2 separate regions of the Homo sapiens genome follow, and region 2 is linked to region 1. Evidence: fine-mapped expression QTL. A gene starts in region 1. The other region holds a variant in brackets. All regions are shown on one strand. Distances are from middle to middle. Region 1 holds the start of PPP6C (protein phosphatase 6 catalytic subunit). Region 2 overlaps PPP6C (protein phosphatase 6 catalytic subunit).

Region 1 (11,812 bases):
GCGCAATCTCGGCTCACTGCAACCTCTGCCTCCTGGGTCCACACCATTCTCCTGCCTCAGCCTCCCAGGTAGCTGGGACTACAGGCGCCTGCCACCATGCCCGGCTAATTTTTTTGTATTTTTAGTAGAGACGGGGTTTCACCGTGTTAGCCAGGATGGTCTCAATCTCCTGACCTCATGATCTGCCCGCCTTGGCCTCCCAAAGTGCTGGGATTACAGGCGTGAGATACTGCGCCCGGCCTGCCTAATCTCTACTTCTACAGAGATCCTGAAGAGATTGAAAAAGAAGAGCAAGCTGCTACTGAAAAGGCTGTGACAAAGGAGGAATTTCAGGGTGAATGGACTGCTCCAGCTCCTGAGTTCACTGTTACTCAGCCTGAGGTTGCAGACTGGTCTGAAGGGTGCAGGTATCCTCTGTGCCTATTCAGCAGTTCCCTACTGAAGACTGGAGCACTCAGCCTGCCACGGAAGACTGGTCTGCAGCTCCCACTGTTCAGACCACTGAATGGTTTTAAATTGTTCTTGCAGGGACTCTTAAGCAACTTGGAAATAAGGTTGATGGAAAATAGGCATCAGTTTCTTTTTTTTTTTTTTTGTTTGAGACAGTCTCGCTCTTTCGCCAGGCTGGAGGGCAGTGGCGCAATCTCGGCTCACTGAAACCTCTGACTCCCTGTTTCAAGCAATTCTCCTGCCTCAGCCTCCTGAGTAGCTGGGATTACAGGCAGGCTAATTTTTGTATTTTTAGTATAGACGGTGTTTCGTCACATTGGCCAGGTTGGTCTCGATCTCCTGACCTCGTCATCCGCCCGCCTTGGCCTCCCAAAGTGTTGGGATTACAGGTGTGTGTGTTTATGGCCACCGTGCCTGGCCATAAACATCAGTTTCTAAAAAAAAAAAAAAAGAAAAATATCTAAACAAGAACAGCATCTTCTTCCATTTGAATTTTTTTCTCCAAGAAATTCTGAGCAGATTATCCCTTTACCTTTTTTTCCTTTTTTTTTTTTGAGACAGGGTCTCACTCTGTTGCCTAGGCTGGAGTGCAGTGGCACAACTTTGGCTCACTGCAACCTCCGCCTCTGGGGCTCAAGCAATCCTCCCGCCTCAGCCTCTTGAGTAGCTGGGACTACAGGCACATGCCAGCATGCCCGGCTAATTTTTATATTTTTTGTAGAGATGGGGTTTTGCCATGTTTCCCAGGCTGGTCTCGAACTCCTGGGCCCAAGCAATCTGCCCACCTCAGCCTCCCAAAGTGCTGGGATTACAGGCATGAGTCATTGCACCTGTCCTGCCTTTTTTTCCTCCCCTCCCCTCCCTCTCTCTCTTTCTCTCTTTCTTTCTTTTTGATGGAGTCTCGCTTTGTCACCCAGTCTGGAGTGCAGTGGCGCAATGTCGGCTCAATGCAACCTCTGCCTCCCGGGTTCAAGCGATTCTCCTGCCTCAGCCTTCCCAGTAGGTGGGATTACAGGCATGCACCACCATGCCTGGCTAATTTTTGTATTTTTAGTAGAGACGGGGTTTCACCATGTTGACCAGGCCTGTCTTGAACTCCTGACCTCAAGTGATCTGCCCGCCTGGGCCTCCCAAAGTGCTGTGATTACAGGCGTGAGCCACCATGCCCAGCCTCCTACATTTTTTTTTCTGAAGTCTTACATGTTACACCTTCAGAAATGCCTTTCCTGCCCACCTAATACTCAGAGTTAACACTCATATTGCACTCACTCTGTGCTAGACAATGTTTTTTTGTCTTTGTTTTTTGTTTTGAGACAGAGTCTCACTGTCACCCTGATGTAGTACAGTGACACAATCACAGCTCACTGCAGCCTTGGCCTCCTGGGCTCAAGTGATCCTCCCACATCAGTCTTTAGAGTAGCTGGGTCTACAGGTATGTGCCAGCACCAAACCTGGCTAATTTTAATTTTTTTTTTTTTTTGGTAGAGATGAGGTCTCACTATGTTGCCCAGTCTGGTCTTGAACTCCTTGGCTCAAGTGATCCTCCTGCCTTGGCCTCTCAAAGTGTTGGAATCACAAGTATGAGCCACTGTGCCCGGCCCAGACATTGTTTTAAGCCATTTTCATATACCAACTCTGTTAAACCTTTGTACAAGCCTATGAGGTAAGTAGTATTCTTACAATCTCCAGAGGAGGTAAGCATTATTATTATCTCCATATTGGAGCTGAGAAAACTGGAGTACAGAAAGGATAAATAACTTCTCCAAACCAAAATCACACAATAAGTGGTAGAGCCTGTATTTGAACTCTGCCCACATGGTGCTAGAAGCTACATCCTGTACTTTACCTCCTCTGTGTTATCAACCTAAAGTAGGCCTCTTTTTTTTGAGACGGAGTCTCGCTCTGTTGTCCAGGCTGGAGTGCAGTGGTGCGATCTCGGCTCACTGCAACCTCTGCCTCCCAGGTTCAAGTGATTCTCCTGCTTCAGTCTCCTGAGTAGCTGGGATCACAGGCACGTGCCACCACACCAGGCTAAGTTTTTCTTTTTCTTTCTTTCTTTTTTTCTTTTTCTTTTTTTTAAGACGGAGCCTTGCATTGTCACCCGGGCTGGAGTGCAATGACGCTATCTCAGCTCACTGCAACCGCAACCTCCATCTCCCAGGTTCACGCAATTCTCCTGCCTCAGCCTCCCAAGTAGCTGAGATTACAGGCACACACCACCATACCCGGCTAATTTTTTGTATTTTTAGTAGAGACAGGGTTTCACTATATTGACCAGGCTGGTCTCAAACTCCTGACCTCATGATCCGTCCGCCTCGGCCTCCCAAAGTGCTGGGATTACAGGCGTGTGCCACCATGCTGGGCCCTTTTTTTTCCCCCAAAGGACACAAGTACAGGTAAGAAAATGTAGTTTTTTGTTTTTTTTTTTTTTTTAGACAGGGTCTCACTTTCTCTCCCAGGCTAGAGTGCAGTGGTGGGATCTCAGCTGGTCAGGAACTCCTGACCTCAAAAAGACCTGCCCGCCTCGGTCTCCCAAAATGCTGGGATTACAGGCGTGAGCCACTGTGCCCAGCCAAAGGTAGACCTCGTCTACTCCATTTTTCTTGCTTATAGTACCTCCTATTTTCCCTTTTGAGTACTAATCACAATTTGCAATTAAATATTTGCTCACTGCCAGGTATGGTGGCTTACACGTATAATCCCAGCACTTTGGGAGGCCAAAGCAGCGGAATAGCTTGAGGCCAGGAATTTAAAACCAGCCTCAGCAAGACCTCACCTCAACAATTTTTTTTTTTTTTCTGTTGGCCAGGCTGGAGTGCAGTGGCACGACCTCAGCTCCCTGTAACCCCCACCTCAAAGCAATTTTCATGCCTCAGACTCCGGAGTAGCTGGGATTACAGGCATGTGCTACAATGCCCAGCTAATTTTTGTATTTTTAGTAGAGATCAGGTTTCACCATGTTGGCCAGGATGGTCTTGAATTCCTAGCCTCAAGATATCTGCTCACCTTGGCTTCACTACTGGGATTACAAGTTTGAGCCACTGCACCCGGCCTCAACAAAAACAAAAATTTTAATTACCTCACCCTATGCATCTCTTCATTTGTATCCTTTGTAATATCCTTTATATTAATAATAAACCAGTAAATGTAAATAAATAAATAAATACTGTTTGTCTCTTCCCAGCAGATTGTAAGCCTGATTAGGGCAGGGATCATATCTGTTTTATTCACATCATAAGCACTGTGTAACCTCTGGTTTCTTTTCTCTTTGAGATGGAGTTTCACTCTGTGGCCCAGGCTGGAGTACAGTGGCGCCATCTCAGCTCACTGCAACCTCTGCCTCAAGCAATTCAAGTGATCCTCCTGCCTCAGCCTCCCCAGTATTTTGTATTTTTAGTAGAGATGGGGTTTCGGCATGTTGGCCAGGCTGGTCTTGAACTCCTGACGTCAGGTGATCTGCCTGCCTTGGCCTCCCAAAGTGCTGAGATTACAGGCATTAGCCACCGCGGCCTGGCCAATAGGCACTATGTAACTATTAGTTTAATGAATGAAGAAATGAATGCTTGTGGGCATCATTCATTCTGCAACAAACTTCTAAAAATTAATTTTACTTTGAAACAATTTCATACTTTCAGAGGAGTTACAAGAATAATACAAAGAAGTTCACCCAGATATCTCATTCAGGGTTAGCCAATTGTCCACAAAATATACTTTAGAGAGCAAGAGGATTAATTCCAGGGTCTCTTGAGCAACAAATATTTATTGAGCGCCTGCTACTATTGGATTACATAACAGTCTCTTAACTGGTCTCTTAGCTATAGGCATTGCACCCCCACCCCTAGTCCCATACAGCAGCTCCTTTTACTAATTTATTTTTGAGGAGGATCTCGCTCTGTCGCCCAAGCTGGAGTGCAGTGCCGCGATCTCAGCTCACTGCAACCTCCGCCTCCCAACTCAAGCGGTTCTCCTGCCTCAGCCTCCAGAGTAGCTGGGACCACAAGCACGCACTACCGCGCCAGGCTAATTTTGGTACTTTTTGTAGCTACAGATAGAATAGAGATCTTTGTCTATTTTGTTCACGAAGTACTGCAAGCGCCTTGAGCTGTACCTGGCACATCTTTGTTGCTCAGCAAAGAGTGGTTGGATAAACGAACGCTGAAGGTATGCTAGTACCAGGTACTGTTCTCGGTGCTGGAGTTACAGCAAAAAACTCCCTGCCCTCGTGGGATTCTCACTGGAAGCATGCTTAAGCTTAAGCCATTTTTCAATCTTGACCCCACCATTTTGTTCCCTGTGAGATTTGGGGTGAACTGCAGTTTCCTAGCCTCACTTTCCTATCAATCGTTACGAAGATTAAAAGGAAAAATATCATTTGTATCGCATTTAGCATCAGAAATGCTTTAATAATATTCGTTTCCCTTCCTTTCAGGCTGGAAGACTGGGGCCTGACATCTCTGCCACAGGCTTAGGCGAGGTTTTCACAGGGACTTGGAAAGGTGCAAACGGTTACTACGGCCAGGCTTACCCAATTGTTAAGTGAAGATATTCTGGAGAGTGCTTAAAAGGGTTGGAAAAACAAACCAGTGAGTGGCTAGGACCACCTACTCCGCTGTTTTGCCTCGGAAAAGCCTCGCCGGCTGCCGGGAGGTGAAAGTCTGGAGGAACGGGAGGAAAAGAGAGGGGTGGCTGTCCACAACAGAAAACTACACATCCCAGCACCCCCGCGGCAGACGACTACGGGTCCCAGCAGGTTTCGCGGGGTGGACCGAAGCGGGCTCTCTTGGGGCCTGCAGTCGGGGTTCAGCCAGAGGGGGCGCCGGGCGTACCGACGTAGCGGGGAGAAACGGGTCGCGCTTTAACGGCGCTGCGCAGGCGCCACTCACGGGCCGGACGTGACGCAGGGAAAGTTCCGGCTTCGGCCTCCGCCGCTGCCGCCGCCGCTGCTACAGCCGCCGCCGCCGCTGTTGCCGCGGCTTGTTATTCTTAAAATGGCGCCGCTAGACCTGGACAAGTATGTGGAAATAGCGCGGCTGTGCAAGTACCTGCCAGAGAACGACCTGAAGGTGAGCCCTATTTGCGGGCTCGCCCCTTCCGGCTGTGGGGCGCCCGCCGGCCGGCCCTTCCTTTCTCCAGGACCCCCGCCGGGTATCCAGTCCAGTCGCGGTGGAGGGCCTCCCCCATTGCCAGTCGACCCGGTCCTACCCGGCGTCACGCCGAGGGTCTCGCGAGCCGAGTCGTCGAATGCTGTCCCGGTTGCCTCAGTGGGGATCCCGAGGGATGTCGCGGCCTCTGTCCCAGGGTCGCCCCTTCTGGCCTTCGGGCTGCCCCAGGACCCGCAGCTGTAACAGCTTTATTTAGAAGGCTCGGCTCCCCACCCCATCCCTGGGTCTCCCGCAGTCGGAGCCGAGCCCCCGCGGCAGTGCCCTCGGGATGGGGTCGCCTCCACCGGAGGTGACAGGAGCGCGGAGTGGCCGGCGTCTGACAGGAGATGCCACCGGCTACCGGAACGCGGCCTCAGTGTGTTTAGGTCTCTGAGGAAGGGGAAGGCGGTGGGCCCGAGTGGTTTGGTACTGGCGGGAGCGAACGTCAGGTCGTCCCTCTTCATTGCCACTCCTCCAAATTGCTTTTTAGGATCGTCGGTTTTGCTAATTCAGAGGTGAATCCCGTTTCTGAGTATGTTGTTGAGCTTACTGAAGTGGATAAAGTAGTTGGTTCTCAATAAATACAAATACTTTCTCCTTAACCCCTTCTTAACTCAGTATTTCATTTTCTTCGTTTTCTAAAGGAGGTGAGTTCCTTGTTACTCCTGAGTCCAAGTAAGAGTAAATGTATGTATGGGTAAAGGAATGACTTTGGTATACTGCTTTTCTTTTTTAAAACTTTTTAATTATTATTATTATTATTATTATTATTGTTTTTAACTGAGATAGAGTCTCACTCTGTCACCCAGGCTGGAGTGCAGCGGTGCGATCTTGGCTCACTGCAACCTCCACTTCCCGGGTTCAAGCGATTCTCCTGCCTCAGCCTCCCGACTAGGTGGAATTACAGGCGCCCGTCACGACGCCCGGCTGTTTTGTATTTTTAGTAGAGACGGGGTTTCGCCATGTTGGCCAGGCTGGTCTTGAACTCCTGACCTCAAGTGATCCGCCCGCTTCGGCCTACCAAAGTGCTGGTATTACAGGCGTGAGCCACCGCGCCGGCCTAGGTATACTGCTTCTTTGAAAAGTGTTTCTATGCATTTGCTGAAATCAGAGCTTAGGTTTCTAGCAGTGCTTATCAGCTCGTGCTAGTATTTAACCGACTCAGTGTATTCTTTTTTTTTGAGACGGAGTCTCGCTCTGTCGCCCAGGCCGGAGTGCGGTGGCACCATCTCGGCTCACTGCAACCTCCGCCTCCCGGGTTCACGCCATTCTCCTGCCTCAGTCTCCCGAGTAGCTGGGACTACAGGTGCCCGCCACCACGCCTGGCTAATTTTTTGTATTTTTAGTAGAGACGGGGTTTCACCGTGTTAGCCAGGATGGTCTCGATCTCCTGAACTCGTGATCCGCCCGCCTCGGCCTCCCAAAGTGCTGGGATTACAGGCGTAAGCCACCGTGCCCAGCCCCGACTCAGTGTATTCTTAAGGAAATATATTACTGTGGGTTTTGTTTTATTTCTTCTTTGTACAGTAAGTTGATACTTAACATCAGTCAACAAGTATGCATAATATTTGAGGCCACACGTGCTGTTGTGAATGTGACTGAATTGTACTTACCTGTTAATTTTATGTGGCATATGATAGGGGAGTCATTCTTGTGCATTTTCCCGTTTTTAATAGAATAATTTCAAATAAGGACAGCCTTCGTTAGTAGTAATGTAGCATTTGTGCTCATCTGAGTCCTTCAGACATTCCTTTTGTGGCTTCTTTCTGCTATGTGGTTTTTTTAAGGGAATAAGAATACAACTAGCATTGGGACCCAATTCATGGAAAACTAACCAGACCTCTTAGTAGCATTATTAATCCCATAGGTGAGGTTGACTATTGCATGTCAGTGAATTGACATGGAATTTTTTCTTCTTATTTATCATGCATAAAGCTTTTTTGAACTTTGTGTTTATGATGAATAAAATGTTGCTTTTTATGAAAATGTGTCTAGGGCACAGTGGCGTAATCTCAGTACTTGGGGAGGCTGAGGTGGGCAGATCATTTGAGATCAGGAGTTTGAGACCAGACTGACCGACTTGGTGAAACCCCCTCTCTACTAAAAACACAGAAATTAGCCGAGCATGGTGGTAGGTGCCTGTAATCCCAGTTTACTTACTTGGGAGGCTGAGGCAGGGAGAATGGCTTGAACCCGGGAGAATTGCTTGCAGTGAGCCGGGATCACACCACTGTACTCCAGCCTGGGAGACAGAGCAAGACTCTGTCTCAAAAAAAAAGAAAAGGAAATTGGGCACTGAAATGATTTGAAAGATAATCTGGCCAGGTGCAGTGGCTCACGCCTGTAATCCCAGCACTTTGGGTGGCTGAGGCAGGTGGATCACTTGAGGTCAGGAGCTCGAGACCAGCCTGGCCAACATGGTGAAACCCCGTCTGTACTAAAAATACAAAAATAAACTGGAGGTGGTGGCAGGTGCTTGGAATCCCAGCTACTTGGGAGGCTGAGGCAGGAGAATCGCTTGAACCAGGGAGGCGGAGGTTGCAGTGAGCCAAGATTGCGCCACTGCAGTCCAGCCTGGGTGACAGAGGGAGACTCCGTCTCACCAAAAAAAAAAAAAAAAAAAAAAAGAAAGAAAAATCTGTTGGACTTCTTTGTACCTCTTAGTTTGATAAACATTAGATTTCCTTCTTACCTTAAGGAAGTACAATTTTTAGACCATTTTATTTCTTGTTGAAACATAGCTGCATTGTACTTGACTTGTATTTGTTTCTTTTTTTTTCTTAAAAAAATTTTTAATCTTTTTTTTGGTGGGGGAGCGGGGACATGGTCTCACTCTCACCCATGCTGTAGTGTGGTGGCACAATCATGGCTCATTGCAGCCTCGACCTCCTGGGCTCAGGCAGTCCTCCCACCTTAGCCTCCTGAGAAGCTGGGACCACAGGCACATGCCCCCATGACCAGCTAATTTTTATTTATTTTTTTGGTAGAGACAGGGTCTTGCTATGTTACCCAGGCCAGTCTTGAACTCCTGGGCTCAAGCGATCCTCCCACCTTGGCTTCCCAAAATGCTGGGATAACAGGCATGAGCCACTATACTTGGCCTGTATCCATTTCTTAATAAACTTAAAAATATATGTTTTGGGCAACCAAGACAAAAGTATTCTGAATTTTTCTTTATAGGTAGAGACTTTTTTTTCTGTCTTGGAAATGCTTTTATCAGATTAATTTGTTGTGTTGCTCATCTCTGGTGTATTTAAAGAAATTTAATTTTTTTCTGTTTCTTGGCATGAAGTGCAACCTAAAATTAGGCCAAGAAAGTATGCCAGGAGTACTTTTTCTGAGGCTGTAAAGGCAAAATAAAACATTCTATTAAGAAAAGTAATCATTGAGGCCACTTAATGAGCAAGATGGAAAAGATTTGTTCTGTAGAAAAGAAGACAGAAATTTACTTGTGTTTTAAATTGATTAGAAGATAAAATACTAAATGCATACGATGTTCCAGATTTAATCACAATTTCTGTTTCGCTAAGTTGGAAATGGTCACATCACTAGTACTGGATCAAATCTACATAACTGTTTTTGTTTGTTTGTTCGCTCTTGTTGCTCAGGGTGGAGTGCAATGGCGTGAGCTTGGCTCACTGCAACCTCTGCCTCCCGGGTTCAAGCGATTCTCCTGCCTCAGCCTTCCTGAGTAGCTGTGATTACAGGCATGTGCCACCACGCCCAGTTAATTTTGTATTTTTAGTAGAGACCAGGTTTCCCCATGTTGTTCAGGCTGGTCTCGAACTCCTCACCTCAGATGATGCACCCACCTCGGCCTCCCAAAGTGCTGGGATTATAGGTGTGAGCCTGGCCTGTTAGTTTGTTTTTTTGAGACGGAGTCTTGCTCTGTTGCCCAGGCTAGAGTGCAGGTGCACGTTCTCAGCTCACTGCAACCTCCGCCTCCCGGATTCAAGCGATTCTCCTGCCTCAGCCTCCTGAGTAGCTGGGATTACAGGCACCCACCACCACTCCTGGCTAATTTTTGTATTTTTAGTAGAGATGGGGTTTCACCATGTTGGCCAGGCTGGTCTCAAACTCCTGACCTCAGGTGATCCACCCTTCTCAGCCTCCCAAAGTGCTGGGATTACAGGCGTGAGCCACCATGCCTGGCATACATAACAGTTTTGAAGGAATAAGAATGACATATGTGGGCCGGGAGGCTGAGGCAGGAGAATTGCTTGAGCCTGGGAGATGGAGGTTGCAGTGAGCCGAGATCATGCCACTGCACTCCAGCCTGGCCAACAGAGCGAGACCCTGTCTCAAAAAAAAAAAAAAATGACATATGTGAAAGTAAATGGACCACAGTGTAACCTTTCTTATAAAGAGCTCATGTGATTTTATCCACAAGAAAGATTTCAGAGAGATTAATAAAAGATACAGATTCCATACCTGGCTAAATGGAAGAATTAATGATAAAGGCAGGTTTACTGAATACTTATATTTAAGTATTAATATTTTTGGGGAGCAGGGGTTCTATAACTTGGAGGTTGTCTAATCTCTTGGACAGTTCTTAAGGGTGACATGTTTACCTGAGGTTTTTTTTTTTTTTTTTTTTTTGAGACTGAATCTAACTCTATTGCCCAGGCTGGAGTACAGTGGTACCATCTCAGCTCACTGCAGTCTCCACCTCCTGGGTTCAAGCAGTTCTGCCTCAGCTGGGATTACAGGTGCGCACTACCACACCCAGCTAATTTTTGTATATATATATTTTTTGGTAGAGATGGGGTTTCACCATGTTGGCCAGGCTGGTCTCGAACTTCTGGCCTCAGGTGATCCGCCCACCTCGGCCTCCCAAAGTGTTGGGATTACAGATGTGAGCCACTGTGTTTGGCCATTCCTTATTTGTGTTTTCCACAATTTTAGAACACTGCCCTGTATGTGATAATCAGTAAAGGTTTATTGACTCAAACTGTTTACTGCTTTATGACAAATACTTGTTTCTTCTTCTTCTTTTTTTTTTTTTCTTTGAGGTAGGGTCTCAGTCTGCTGCCCAGGGTGGAGTGCAGTGGTGCAGTTGTAGCTTGCTGCAACCTCAAACTCCTGGGCTCAATTGATCCTTCTGCCTCAGCCTCAAAAGTAGCTGGGAGTACAGGTGTGCAATAGTGTGCCCAGCTGATTAATTATTATTTTTATTTTTGAGATGGAGTCTCACTCTGTCACCAGGCTGGAGTGTAATGGCGCGATCTCGGCTCACTGCAACCTCTGCCTCCTGGGTTCAAACAATTCTCCTGCCTCAGCCTCCCAAGTAGCTGGGACTACAGATGCATGCCACCATGCCTGGCTAGTTTTTTGGTATTTTTGGTAAAGATGGGGTTTCACTGTGTTTGCCAGGATGGTCTCAATCTCCTGACCTCGTGATCCACCCGCCTTGGCCTCCCAAAGTGCAGGGATTATAGGCGTTAGCCACCGCGCCTGGCAAAAAAAAAATTTTTTTAAGGGATAGCGTCTTGCTATGCTGTCCAGGCTGGTCCCAAATGCTTCAGGTGATTCTCCTGCCTTGGCCTCCCAAAATGCTGAGATTATAGGTGTGAGCCACTGTGCCCAGCCAACAAACACTTATTTACATGGTTCCTTGTGTTGAGTACTGTTCCCTGTGGGTGCCAGGGGCAGAATTGGATACTTGTGTCTGCCTTTGAGGGGCTTTCAATATAGTAAGGGAGGTAAGGAGGTAAACAAAGACTGTAATAGAGGCTGACCAGGGTGTTGGCAAACAGAAGAAGCAGTATGTAACTTTAGAGTCAGAGATGATTTCATAAAGGAGCAGTTACGAGGGGCAGAGTTCAGGTAGACAAAATGAGAAGGAAAGAACATGCAAACAGAATAAACACCATGTGCAATAGTATAATGTAATTTGCAAGAACATGGCTGGTTCGGGGAACTTGAAGTGGTTTGGTATGGCTGGAGGTGGTACTGGAAAGAAAGATGCCAAATCATAGAAGAGTAGGCTGTTAAACTTAGATTGTTATTTTTTAGGTGGTGCATGAACACTATGAAATGTTTTTATATTTTAGGGAAAAATCATACTGTGATTCGTGATACTGTTTAAAATGTAGCTAACTAAAAATAAAAGTAGATTCAAAGAAAATTATTACAGGGATACACTGTTGTATGTGGTAGGAATATGACAAAATAATGAAAATGGTATTTGGTGTTTGGGAAACACTGCCATAAATGGAGGA
Region 2 (11,812 bases), 39 kb after region 1:
ATTATCAATTAGAGAAATTTTGAGAATTTATTGTTTTTATATAATTTTTTTAATACGTGTAAAGTTAGGTAATATTTATCTCCTTTCTACAGGTGACTTTTTATTTTCATTCACAAAATAAACACCAATTGAAATACAACTTTTGGATTCTTTTGCAAAATAATCAATATTTTGGATAACATACTATGATATTAGCTCAGTGAAAACAGTACTAAAACTAATGTTATAAAAACACACACACCTACTATATATATGTAACTAATGCTACATGTATAATATATAAAATACATATTGTTATATATGGCTAATATATGACTTTTTTTTTTTTTTTTTTTTGAGACGGAGTCTCGCTCTGTCACCCAGGCTGGAGTGCAGTGGTGCGATCTTCGCTCACTGCAAGCTCTGCCTACTGGGTTCACGCCATTCTCCTGCCTCCGCCTCCCAAGTAGCTGGGACTACAGGCGCCCGCCACCATGCCCGGCTAATTTTTTTGTATTTTTTAGTAGAGACAGGGTTTCACCGTGTTAGCCAGGATGGTCTCAATCTCCTGACCTTGTGATCCGCCCGCCTCGGCCTCCCAAAGTGCTGGGATTACAGGCATGAGGCACTGCGTCCAGCCATATGACATATGTTTTGAATAAGATAATTTTAGTTATTATAGGACTTATATTGATTTTCAAGGAATAAAATATCCCTATATGACTTTACACTGGGACTTCAGTTCACACTGATAAACACATACTGGGCAGTTACTATTGAGCCAAGTTCAAGATCCCTGCCTGCAACCTGAGCTCATTGTTAGGGCTCTCTTATGGCAAGTTTACATAACAATCTTGCTTCACGTAGATATATAATTGAGAAAATCTTGGGGATTGGTCATAACCTGCAGACTTCTTTCCTATATCATTTTCAGCTTCACTTAAGGCAATAGTGATATGTCAGGTTTTTTTTTTTCTAAAATTATGGAAGAAGCCAAAGTACAGAGCTTCCATGGTGTTAACAAAAGAAGTGTGTACCCTATTAACTATGTAGACAGTCAGGGTACAGTGGCTCACATCTGTATTCTCAGCACTGTGGGAGGCTGAGGTAGGAGGATTGCTTGAGCTCAGGAGTTCAAGACCAGCCTGGACAACATAGGGAGATCCCCATCTCTACCAGAAATAAAATTAGCCAGGTGTGGTGGCACTTGCCTGTAGTTCCAGCTGTTCAGAAGGCTGAGGTGGTGGGATCGCTTGAACCCAAGTGGTTGAGGTTGCAGTGAGCTGTGATCGCGCCACTGCTGATTGTGCCACTGTATTCCAACTTGGGCAATAGAGTGAGACCTTGTCTCAAAAACAAAAAACTACGTAGGCAGCAGAAAGAGTGTTCAACTGAGAATTTGTAAGAACCTGATTGGCAATCTGTCCTCAGTTTTGATCCACTGAAGCTCAAGTGTTTAGTCGCACGATTTGCAGAAAATCTCAGAAGAGACAACTTAGCCCTGAGAAGAGTTAGGAATTGCTCATGCTCCTATAACTAAGGATCCTCTAATTTGTTTGATCTGTTTATCCTGCTAGAATTGTCTCCTTAAATAAATTTATCTGCTTACCAGAATTGCCTAATATTAACATAACTGTTAAAACATTTGCTTCAGGTTGTGTGAAATTAGTATTTAACTCTTCTAATGATAGCATTTTGGCTAATAATTTCAGCTGCTTCTTAGGTCCATTCCAGGAATGAAGAGCAGTACTACATCCTTAGGAAATACAGTCATGTGCCACATAATGACATTTCAGTCGATGATGGACTGTATATATGACAGTGGTCCCATAGATAAAACGGAGCTGAAAAATTCCTATTGCACAAATACTTACCATTGTGTTACTATTTCCTTATGATATTTAGTACAGTTACATGCTGCACAAATTTATAGCCTATGAGCAATAGGCTATATCATATTGCCTAGGTGTGTAGTAGGCTAGACCATCTAGGTTTATGTAAGGACATCCGATGATGTTCACACAACGATGAAATCACCTAACAATGCATTTTTTAGAATGTATCCCCATGGTTAAGGGACATACAACTGTATGTAGTTAGTCACTAGCGTTCTTTTGGCTCTATGTGGAGGTCCTAGCAGGACTAAATATGTGTCATATCTTGCTATCCTAGTTTAAGCTGAATTTCTGTTGTACTGAAGGCTGCTCTAGTATTGGATATATTGTTTATTTTTATTAGCAGATTCATTAATTAAAACCCTTCTGTTTCTTTCACAGATGAGTGCCAAACCAAATATGGAAATGCTAATGCCTGGAGATACTGTACCAAAGTTTTTGACATGCTCACAGTAGCAGCTGTAAGTTTCTATTTTTAAAGTCTCATGTACGTTCCTGCCAATAACACATTGCATATTTTTATCTAGTTGTCATCTCAATTATATTGATATCTTTAGTATTCACTGATGAGTTTAGATATGCCTGAGGTTATATGTTCAACTCTTTGTTATCCTTTTTTGCTAGTTAATAGATGAGCAGATTTTGTGTGTCCATGGTGGTTTATCTCCTGATATCAAAACACTGGATCAAATTCGAACCATCGAACGGAATCAGGAAATTCCTCATAAAGGAGCATTTTGTGATCTGGTTTGGTCAGATCCTGAAGATGTGGATACCTGGGCTATCAGTCCCCGAGGAGCAGGTTGGCTTTTTGGAGCAAAGGTCACAAATGAGGTAAAGCCAACATTTTTGGAAATGTAATTTGTGGATTGCTAATGGGCTGCATAGAGAACTATGGTGGCCCTAGATAACAAACTTGTAGTCTAGCTTACTCAAAATATGGTGGCTGTGGATATTAAATTTCTAGTTTAGTTATTAACGTATGTCTTTCTTTAATGGTTAAATAAGATGACACAGTGAAAGCACCTACTCCAGCATCCATTTGGTAATAATGTATAAAGTAAATGTTCTTTCCTTTTTTTTTTGTTTTTGAGATGGAGTCTTGCTCTGTCGCCTAGGCTGGAGTGCAGTGGCGTGATCTTGGCTCACTGCAACAACCTCTGCCTCCCAGGTTCAAGCCATTCTCCTGCCTCAGCCTCCTGAGTAGCTGGGACCACAGGTGTGCGCCACCATGCCTGGCTAATTTTTGTATTCTTAGTAGAGATGGGATTTCACCGTGTTGGCTAGGCTGGTCTTGAACTCCTGACCTCAGGTGATCCACCCGCCTCAGCCTCCCAAAGTGCTGGGATTATAGGTGTGAGCCACCGCACCCGGCCAGCCCCTTTCCTTTCAAGTACTGTAGTTAAGTAACAAAATGGCAAGACCAAGATAGGCAATACTTTTTTTTTTTTTTCTCAAAGACCTCAAATCACACAGATACAGACACTTTATTAGTTTCCTCTACAAGAGACAATAACATGAATCTTTTTTTTTTTGAGACAAGAGTTTCGCTCATGTTGCCCAGGCTGGAGTACAATGGTGCAATCTCGGCTCACTGCAACCTCTGCCTCCTGGATTCAAGCGATTCTCCTGTCTCAGCCTCCCGAGTAGCTGGGATTACAGGTGTACACCACCACGCCTGGCTAATTTTGTATTTTTAGTAGAGACGGGGTTTCACCATGTTGGTGAGGCTGGTCTTGAACTCCTGACCTCAGGTCATCTGCCCACCTTGGTCTCCCAAGGTGCTGGGATTACAGGCGTGAGCCACCGCGCCCAGCCTACGTCAAATCTTTTTTTTCTTTTTAACAGAAATCTCTGTTCATTTGAAAAGCCAAATAGATCCAAAGAAAGAAGATGAAAATTAAATACTTAAATTAATCAAAAGGCACTATGATACCACCTAAAACCTACTGCCACAGTGGTAGTAGGCTAAGGAAGATCAAGCTACAGCAAATCATGTAATGTGAATGTTAGCGATTACATAGCAGGAAGCACATTTGCTTTCCAGAAGACTACGGTACAGTGTTCATTTGGGCCCAAGAGGATCTTTGGCCAGGAAAGGATCAAGATGGATGAAGGTAAAGCCAAATCAAAGGAGTAGGTACAAAAGAGAATCCAAGCTACATAGTCAAGCAGATGATGATGGATCAGGCTTCTTCCTCCCAAGAAACATTTGCTGCGCTGTGCTGCCTCCCCCCTCAACCACCCCCCACCCCCTACCCCATGGCTGCTCAAGCCCAACTGCCTACTCCTGCCTTACAGGGTGCTCAGCCACCGGGACTAGGTTTGGGGTTGCCCAGGGCTCTTGCCATAATTTAGCATAGACCTTGGGGAGAACTGCTCACACATGGGTTGGCTTTGCTGCTGGTTGTTCTCAACAAAGAAAACCCTGAAGCATTCACATGCAGAGTAGTCTGAGCTTCTCCAGTCACAGTCAAACACCCCCACACAACATCCTCAAAAGTCTGAAATCTTGTAACAGCTGAGCTATAGTTAAAGCTGCAAGGCTCACAGAATCATCAAGGAAGCCAGAATGAGACAATGCAGATAGGAAGTCCCAGCAGTTAATCTCAATCCTTCTTTCTTCATTTCGGATAAGCTCAGATATACCTGATGTGGGATATAGAAAGCTACACTGGAGCAAGCTGGGTCTTCTGCTGAATTCGTCATCAAATACCAAGGGAAAACAAGGGGTGGGGTGGATTTTATTCTTAAAAAGCCTCAGAAGTTACTGTATTATAAAGGGACATGACTGAATAGGTAAGAAACGGATTCTTCATTGTGAATTTTCCTGATGGCTTCTGCAAGGCTCATAGAGATGTTGATCACCTGTATTTTGGAATGGTGCTTCATCTTGTCCTCCTGGGGTATGTTATTGGTGACTACTACTGCTTTAAAGCATGCGTTGTTGATGTGAGAAATAGCTGGACCAGAGAAGATTCTGTGAGTCAAGATAGCATAAACTTTGGTGACTCCAGCTGAGAGAAGTTTGTCAGCTGCATGGCAGATTGTGCCACAAGTGTCAACCATGTCATCCGCAAGGATGGCCACCAGATCCTTCACATCTCCCACAAGCACCATGCGGTCGACTTCATTGGCCTTCTTTGTGAATCAAGGCAAAGTCCACATTCAGCCTGTCTGCAATGGAGGTCACTCTCTTAGCTCCACCAGCATCAGATGAAACAATAGTGCAGTTCTTCTGCTCAGAGATATTCTCCCTTATCCACTTCAGGACACCTGGCTCTGCATACAGATAGTCCACTGGGTTATCAAAAAAGCCCTGAATTTGAGAAGCATGTAGGTCCATGGTGATAATATGATCTGCGCCTGCCACAGATAGCATGTTTGCAACAAGCTTGGCTGAGATTGTCACCTGACTCTTTATTATCCTGCTGGGCATAAGGGAAGCATGGGATGACTGCAGTAAGCTGGCTCGCTGAAGCAGTCTTGCAGGTATTAGTCATGATCAAAGGCACCATTAAATTGTCATTGATTTTGCCACAACCACTCTGAATGATGTAGACATCCTTTCCACGTACACTTTTGCCAATTTCCACACAGGTCTCCTAGTTGCTGAATTTCTCAATCACTGCCTTGCCGAGCTCCAGGCCCAGGCGATCGGCAGTTTTCTGAGATAAGCCCTGGTGGGAGCTGCCGCTGAAGATTTTGATATTCAGGATCCTGGCCAACTACCCTAAGCACTCTTCACTAAGTGATCACTGCTGCTGCAGAGACTGCAACCAAAGTCGGCCCAGAGACTCAATACTAATCTCTTTGCGATGCTACTCCGCCATCTTCAAGATAGGCAGTACTTTGAACTTTCAACTGTTTTCAGTTAAAACACACACACACACTTTGAACTTTCAACTGTTTTCAATTAAAACACACACACACACACACACACACCCCTTATATTGGGAAGTGCTCCAGCATCATAATGAAGTCAAAAAACTAGATTCTGATCCTGCATCAGTGTATCTTAATTTAGATAAGTTATTTATCTAGTCTGAGCTTTTGTTTCCTTAAGTTGCAAAAGAATAATCTCTTTCAGAATTATTGCAACATCTACATATACTAAACCTTCAGTAAATGGTAGATACTGATAGCAATATCTTTATTATTAAATCAGAAAACACAAAATTTTGTTTCATAGTACCTATTGAATGCTTTTTCTTCCAGAAATTTCTAACTGTTTATGTAGCTGTACAGTTTCCATAGTTGTGCACTTGACTCAGGCCAAAATTGCTGTTTGCCTAAACTTATTAAATTGTTGGAGATAATTATAGAGTG[C/T]GTTCTATAATCTTGATGCCTTTAGTAGTAATAGGATTTGGTATTTTATTTAAATGATTATGTAGGCCGATTGTTTTTTAAGTGCTAAGTACTTACAGTGCCTTTCTAAATTGCAGTTTGTTCATATCAACAACTTAAAACTCATCTGCAGAGCACATCAACTAGTGCACGAAGGCTATAAATTTATGTTTGATGAGAAGCTGGTGACAGTATGGTCTGCTCCTAATTACTGCTATCGTTGTGGAAATATTGCTTCGATCATGGTCTTCAAAGATGTAAATACAAGAGAACCAAAGTTATTCCGGGCAGTTCCAGATTCAGAACGTGTTATTCCTCCCAGAACGACAACGCCATATTTCCTTTGAGGCCTTCGCCCATCCTGCTGACCCATTTTTCTGCCCTCTTCTTACCCCAATTTTCTTGTATTACCCTCTACAATATACTTTTTATTGAGCACTTTGCTGCTGAAATGCTGCCTCTTGCCTTTTTTTTTTTAAATTTTAAATTATCTAAATTTATTGTTTGTTGTGGTGTCTATAGCAAAGTTTTTCTATCAATTTTCCCCCATCCCATCCCCACCCTGGACTCATTTGAGAAGACTTGAGAAATGTCTTAATACTCACACTGCTGCATGTAGCTCTTGCTTATTTACTGGTCTGGGAAACAGGATGTGTTTCCTTTTTTTAAAAGCCAATTGACAGATTACACCTAAATACTCCTCCTTTTGTATCATTCAGCCTTTTGTTTTAGTTTGGTAAGTTTTAAGAAATTTCAGCAGCAAAGTTGTTATTCAGTGGGCACGATGGACTCCAAATGCCTCAAGTTATGTATACCTGTCCCAGATGTAAACTTCATTGTCCTTTGTTGGATGATATTTTAAATGGATATAAAATAAATTGGTCTAAAGGGCTGCCCTCCTTGTTGTGTTTTTAAATTTTAGTTAAAAACTGCTACAGCTTATGACTTTGTACTTTAAGATAATTGTATTGATCTTTTTTCAGATTCCTTGTATTTTTTAATAAAGTAATCTTAAATAAAACTCAGATAGGTTAAGTGTTAGAAATTTTAAACAGCTTACATTGTTAGCGTAAAGTTATCTTTTCTTTTTTCCTAATCAGAGTTCTTGACCCTTTGGTTATTGAGTTTAAAACTTCAATTGAAATTCAATAGTATTTATTTTTGAAAAAAATCACTAAACTGTGCCTAAAGAACATAACTGCCATATTAATGTTTTGGTTTATATCCTCTATAGTAATAGAAAAACATTTAATACTTGTAATGCTGATGTGTTAATTTGATACCAGTTGAGTAGAATGTGATCAATCCAGTTTACAATCTATCATGAGTATTATTAACTAAAATCTATGTGCTTTTCAATAGGAATCATTCTTCTCTTGCTGTAACACTTGACCTTAACTTTTAGAAAGTGTTCATTTTTAAACTGCAACTGGAAAGGTTGAAAAGTTAGGACTCTTGTATTTGTGAACTGTAATCTGAAGCAGATTATTTAAAGTGTAGAAAAAGAAACAAGTTCTTCTTTTTTGCAAAGGTCTGTGATACCATATTTCAGCTTTGTGTAAGTAATTTGAATATCCAAAGGGTTGTGATGATCAGTTCTGAATATGCAACTGTCCACTTAATAAGGACAAGTATTCCAGTATCTCTTATGACTGTAGTCATAAATGATGTTGGAATGTACATTTTGTGAAATAGTTGGTATCCCTTTACTATGATTAATTTTTGTTATTCCAGGAAATACTTGTGAAGCCAGCCAATTAATAAAGCACTTTAGCATCTGTTCAGGTAGTTTTGAAAACCCACTTTTCCCCTTCAGGATAAGAACTTCCAGGTTACCTAAAAATGCAATAAAAATCTTTATAGTCTAAGCTTCTTGGCATATAATTTTTCATCAGGGTTTTCTTTTATTAATTGAGCACAATACTGTTTTGATTTAATTTTTTTCCCTCAAACCACCCAGCTCCTTACATAGTTTTTAATTATATAGCTATATGAAAGAGGTGGCTAAGACATTTGCTGCACACACTTGAACTAATGTTGGGTCAGTAGCTTCGTGTTACTGCCCTGATCCCAGTGTAATTCAGGTGGAAAGGTATTTTTATCTCACAGGGATATGTAGCTATGTATTTTACTAATTGTGAAACACTGGAAATTAATGATGCAGACAACTTGGTGTGGTCTTTGAACAGCTCTCTGCAGTATTTTTTTTTTTCCTGTTACCATAAATTGTATTTAAGTGCTTGCTTTCCACTTAAGTTGTACTAATAGAACCGGTAACTCCCAGCCCTCCCTGTTTGACACTCCTTAGCTTAGATTGATGTAGTTGTTTTTGTTATCCCTATAATGTGACTTTTATTTTTAAGTCATTGTGTACTGCATTTGTTTGTCACTAGTTGGGCACGTGCCAATAATATTCTCTCCATTCCTTATCTGCCATCTCTGTTTTGCCTGATTTCTCTTCAACTGAATAATGGCTTTTTGCATGGAAAAAATAGTTTTTACTATTAGACGTGTAAAGGGAAGAGAGAGCTAATGTATTGGACTTTGTGAGCCTACAAGGAATATTTTGGATCCCTCCAATAAATAAGGGCTATGTACTATATGTACTATATAGAGTTATCATGTGGTGGAAGATACTTGCAAGTCATAGATTTATGGGCAGGAGGATTTGTTACTCCCTATATCTAGGCTGAATGTAAAATCCCTTATGTTGTATCAATGGGGGTAAAAACTATTTTTATTTGCCTATGATATACTTGGTTTCTAATAAAGTGCCCTAGGCTCTAGTGAGAACTGTCTACTTTGAATTGCCATTTACTCCCTTTCCTCCTTTGGCCGATATGCTCTTGGCTAGCTTTTTATAAGTTAATGTGTTTCCCCAAAAAGTTTCACTACTTTATATTCATTTGAGTGTGATCCTAAAACACCTGGATCAACAGTACATCTCATATGCAATCTGCATCAGCTCCTATTCTGTCTGGATGTCTAGAACTGTTGGAAGATTTTGACGTCTTAAGCCCTAGGTTTTGCTTTGGGAAATAAGGTTTGAAATATTGTTCATTGCATTAAGATTTGTGTGTGTGTGCTTTGTAAGCCCAGAACCAGGTTTTGGAAAATGCCTGTACTGTGAAAGCAAATTAGGACTCTTTCTGAGCCTCTTTCATTGTCAGAAATAGAATCACTTTCCATCAGCTTCCAGGAAATTGTGTATCTGGAGTCGAAGAGATTTGACATCAAGAATCCAGATTTTTAAATGTAATTGTTTTTTAAATGCTAATGTTTGTAAAGCACCTTCAGTTCTTCGGATGAAAGGTGCTATATTCCCTCAGTGTAAATTAATAAAAAGATTACAGGAAGTTTGTCAAAAAATTCAATGCATAGTCTGTAGTATGTCCTGACAAGAAGTTAGCATTTTATATAAGAAATTAAAAAATGCTTATTCCTCCACTTGGTTGCTTGACTGGTGAACAAAAGTGAAACCTTTTTTTTTTTGTTTTGCATTTGACTCTGAGCTAAGTGTTCCAACTCTTTAAAGGCAATGTTTATTGTTACAACCTCGATCCAGTGCCCAGAACTATGCTTCATGAGATCATCACAACTCTTTAAATTGTATATTTACAGTGTGTAGTGATGCTGACGAAATACACGGTAGTAAACCAAAAAGAAACATTTGGAAAGTCCCCTAGCATGATGCCAGACACACTAGATGCTTGGGGAAGGTTGGTTCTGCATTCCCCTCCTGTTTTCTATTTCCGTATCAATTTATTGGTGAATTTGTGCCCTCATGAGAGTAGGCTTATGCTGGCTTAGATCATTCAAATGTTTTCTTAATTCAAAAATGCATGACATTTATAGATTTGTGTTGTCAACAAAAATACTACATAAGTATATTCCACTCAATCCCTAGGCACCCACTATGCTCAGCAGCACTGTGCTTTTGTATATAAATGGTGGGTTATAAAAGACTGCATGGAGGCATTATGGAATAGCACAGGCTTTGGGATCAGATCTGGGTGAAAACCCCAGCTCTGTCATGCAGTAATAGCAACTAACCTGTATACAGCATATGTGCTAAATTGTTATGTTCTCTATTTTGTGATGCCCTTGCTGTATGGGTCTATGACTATATTACCTTTTATTTTTTTTTTTTCTTGGTAGAGATGGGGTCTCCCTATGTTGCCCGGGCTAGTCTTGAACTCCCGGCTGAAGAGATCCTCCTATCTCGGCCTTCCAAAGCACTGGGATTACAAGCATAAGCTACTGTGCCCAGCCCAAACTTCAAAAAAATTAATAAATCTTGTTCATCCTTCTCTAGAACTTTTCTCCCCCTAGATGAGGAAATAGGCTTAGAGAGGATAGGTGACTTGTCTAACGTTGCACAAGAGAGCTGGAACTTGAATCCCTAGAGGGCACACCAGAGTATTTCTTTAGCGCTCTATTTTAAGCAATATTGGTTATTGTAGTTGTGTGACCCTGAACAGATTGAATTTTCTGAATCTTAAGTTTCTGTGTCTAAAATAAGAGAATATCAGGCAGGGTTAATCTCACTATTAAAAATAGCACACACAAAGCACCCAGTATCTGGTCCAAAGCTGCCTTTTATTAAGGGCTCATACTCATAGGCCATTTGTTCAAATTCATTGTAGTTGGGAAGAATAATCCAAGGCAATGTATAATTGCTAACATAGTGTAGATTTTGTAAGTACAACACATCTGGACAAGGAAATGTTTGATGTAGGATGGAGTAATTGGGGAAGATAAAGAGGAAGTGTGAATTAAGTGTGGACTGGAATGATGGGATTTGTATGTCTTACAGAGTTAAAATAAGCAGAGATCACTTGGACACAATGTGAAGACTCGAGGATCCTTTTTGGGAAGGCGTAAGAAATGAATAGGTCCTGTTTTATTGACAATATCTGCCATATATCAGTGAGGATTGGTCAATTATGGAAGATGCTAAAAAGCAGGCAATGGATTTTTAATAAGGAATATAATAAATGTATTTCAAGATTACTTCCCTAGTGAGTTGATGATCCCCCTTCGTCTGACACAAATTATTCTCGAGTTCTTTCCTCTCTCTGGCTTGATAATATGGGTGGAAACTGTTAGTTGAGATTGAGGTGATTTGTGGTTCTGTGACTTTAGGATTACGTGAAATACTAATTTGGGGGACCAACAGAGATTTGACATTTTTTCAAAGCAATTTTTCAATTCCTACTACAATTTACCGTCAGTATTACTTCATAAATGGAAAGTCATTTTACCATTAAAGATGTAGGTAGGACCATCTCAGAAGAAAAGACAACTCTTTACACCAAATACATTTGGTTTTGTGAAAAACTAGTATCCTAATTTTTGCCGCTTATGGAGATCAATGAGAGATTTTCCCCACCCCAATGTTGACATGTACTACTCGACGCTGTCATATTATTGAGGCATAAAAGATGTTCTAATAAAATGGAAGTGACTTAAGAGAAAGTTTTATGCCTCCTCCCAACTCTGAACAGATGCTGAGAATATACCAAACAAGTTCACACAGGAGTAGAGATTTAGAGAGGCCTTCCCACCTTCAAGAATTTTATAATACGTTA

What was found. PIP is the estimated chance that this variant, and not a neighbour inherited with it, causes the effect.
Region 2: its variant is the best candidate, but not a certain one, in a credible set for the expression of PPP6C in whole blood (INTERVAL, PIP 0.62).

Annotation. Positions count from the first base shown.
Region 1 is chr9:125,183,345-125,195,156 of GRCh38, reverse strand. PPP6C (protein phosphatase 6 catalytic subunit) reads left to right here and starts at 5,354. Exons shown (of 7, transcript NM_002721.5): 1 at 5,354-5,513. The coding sequence starts at 5,439. It also overlaps the pseudogene RPSAP76. RefSeq lists enhancers at 5,077-5,156, 4,459-5,245, 5,246-6,032.
Region 2 is chr9:125,144,429-125,156,240 of GRCh38, reverse strand. PPP6C (protein phosphatase 6 catalytic subunit) reads left to right here. Exons shown (of 7, transcript NM_002721.5): 5 at 2,256-2,335; 6 at 2,499-2,708; 7 at 6,320-9,668. The coding sequence ends at 6,568. It also overlaps the pseudogene PRPS1P2. Among named protein-coding and RNA genes, the nearest start is that of SCAI, 6.8 kb to the right of the region's middle. The variant C/T (reference allele first, on the strand shown) is at 6,204.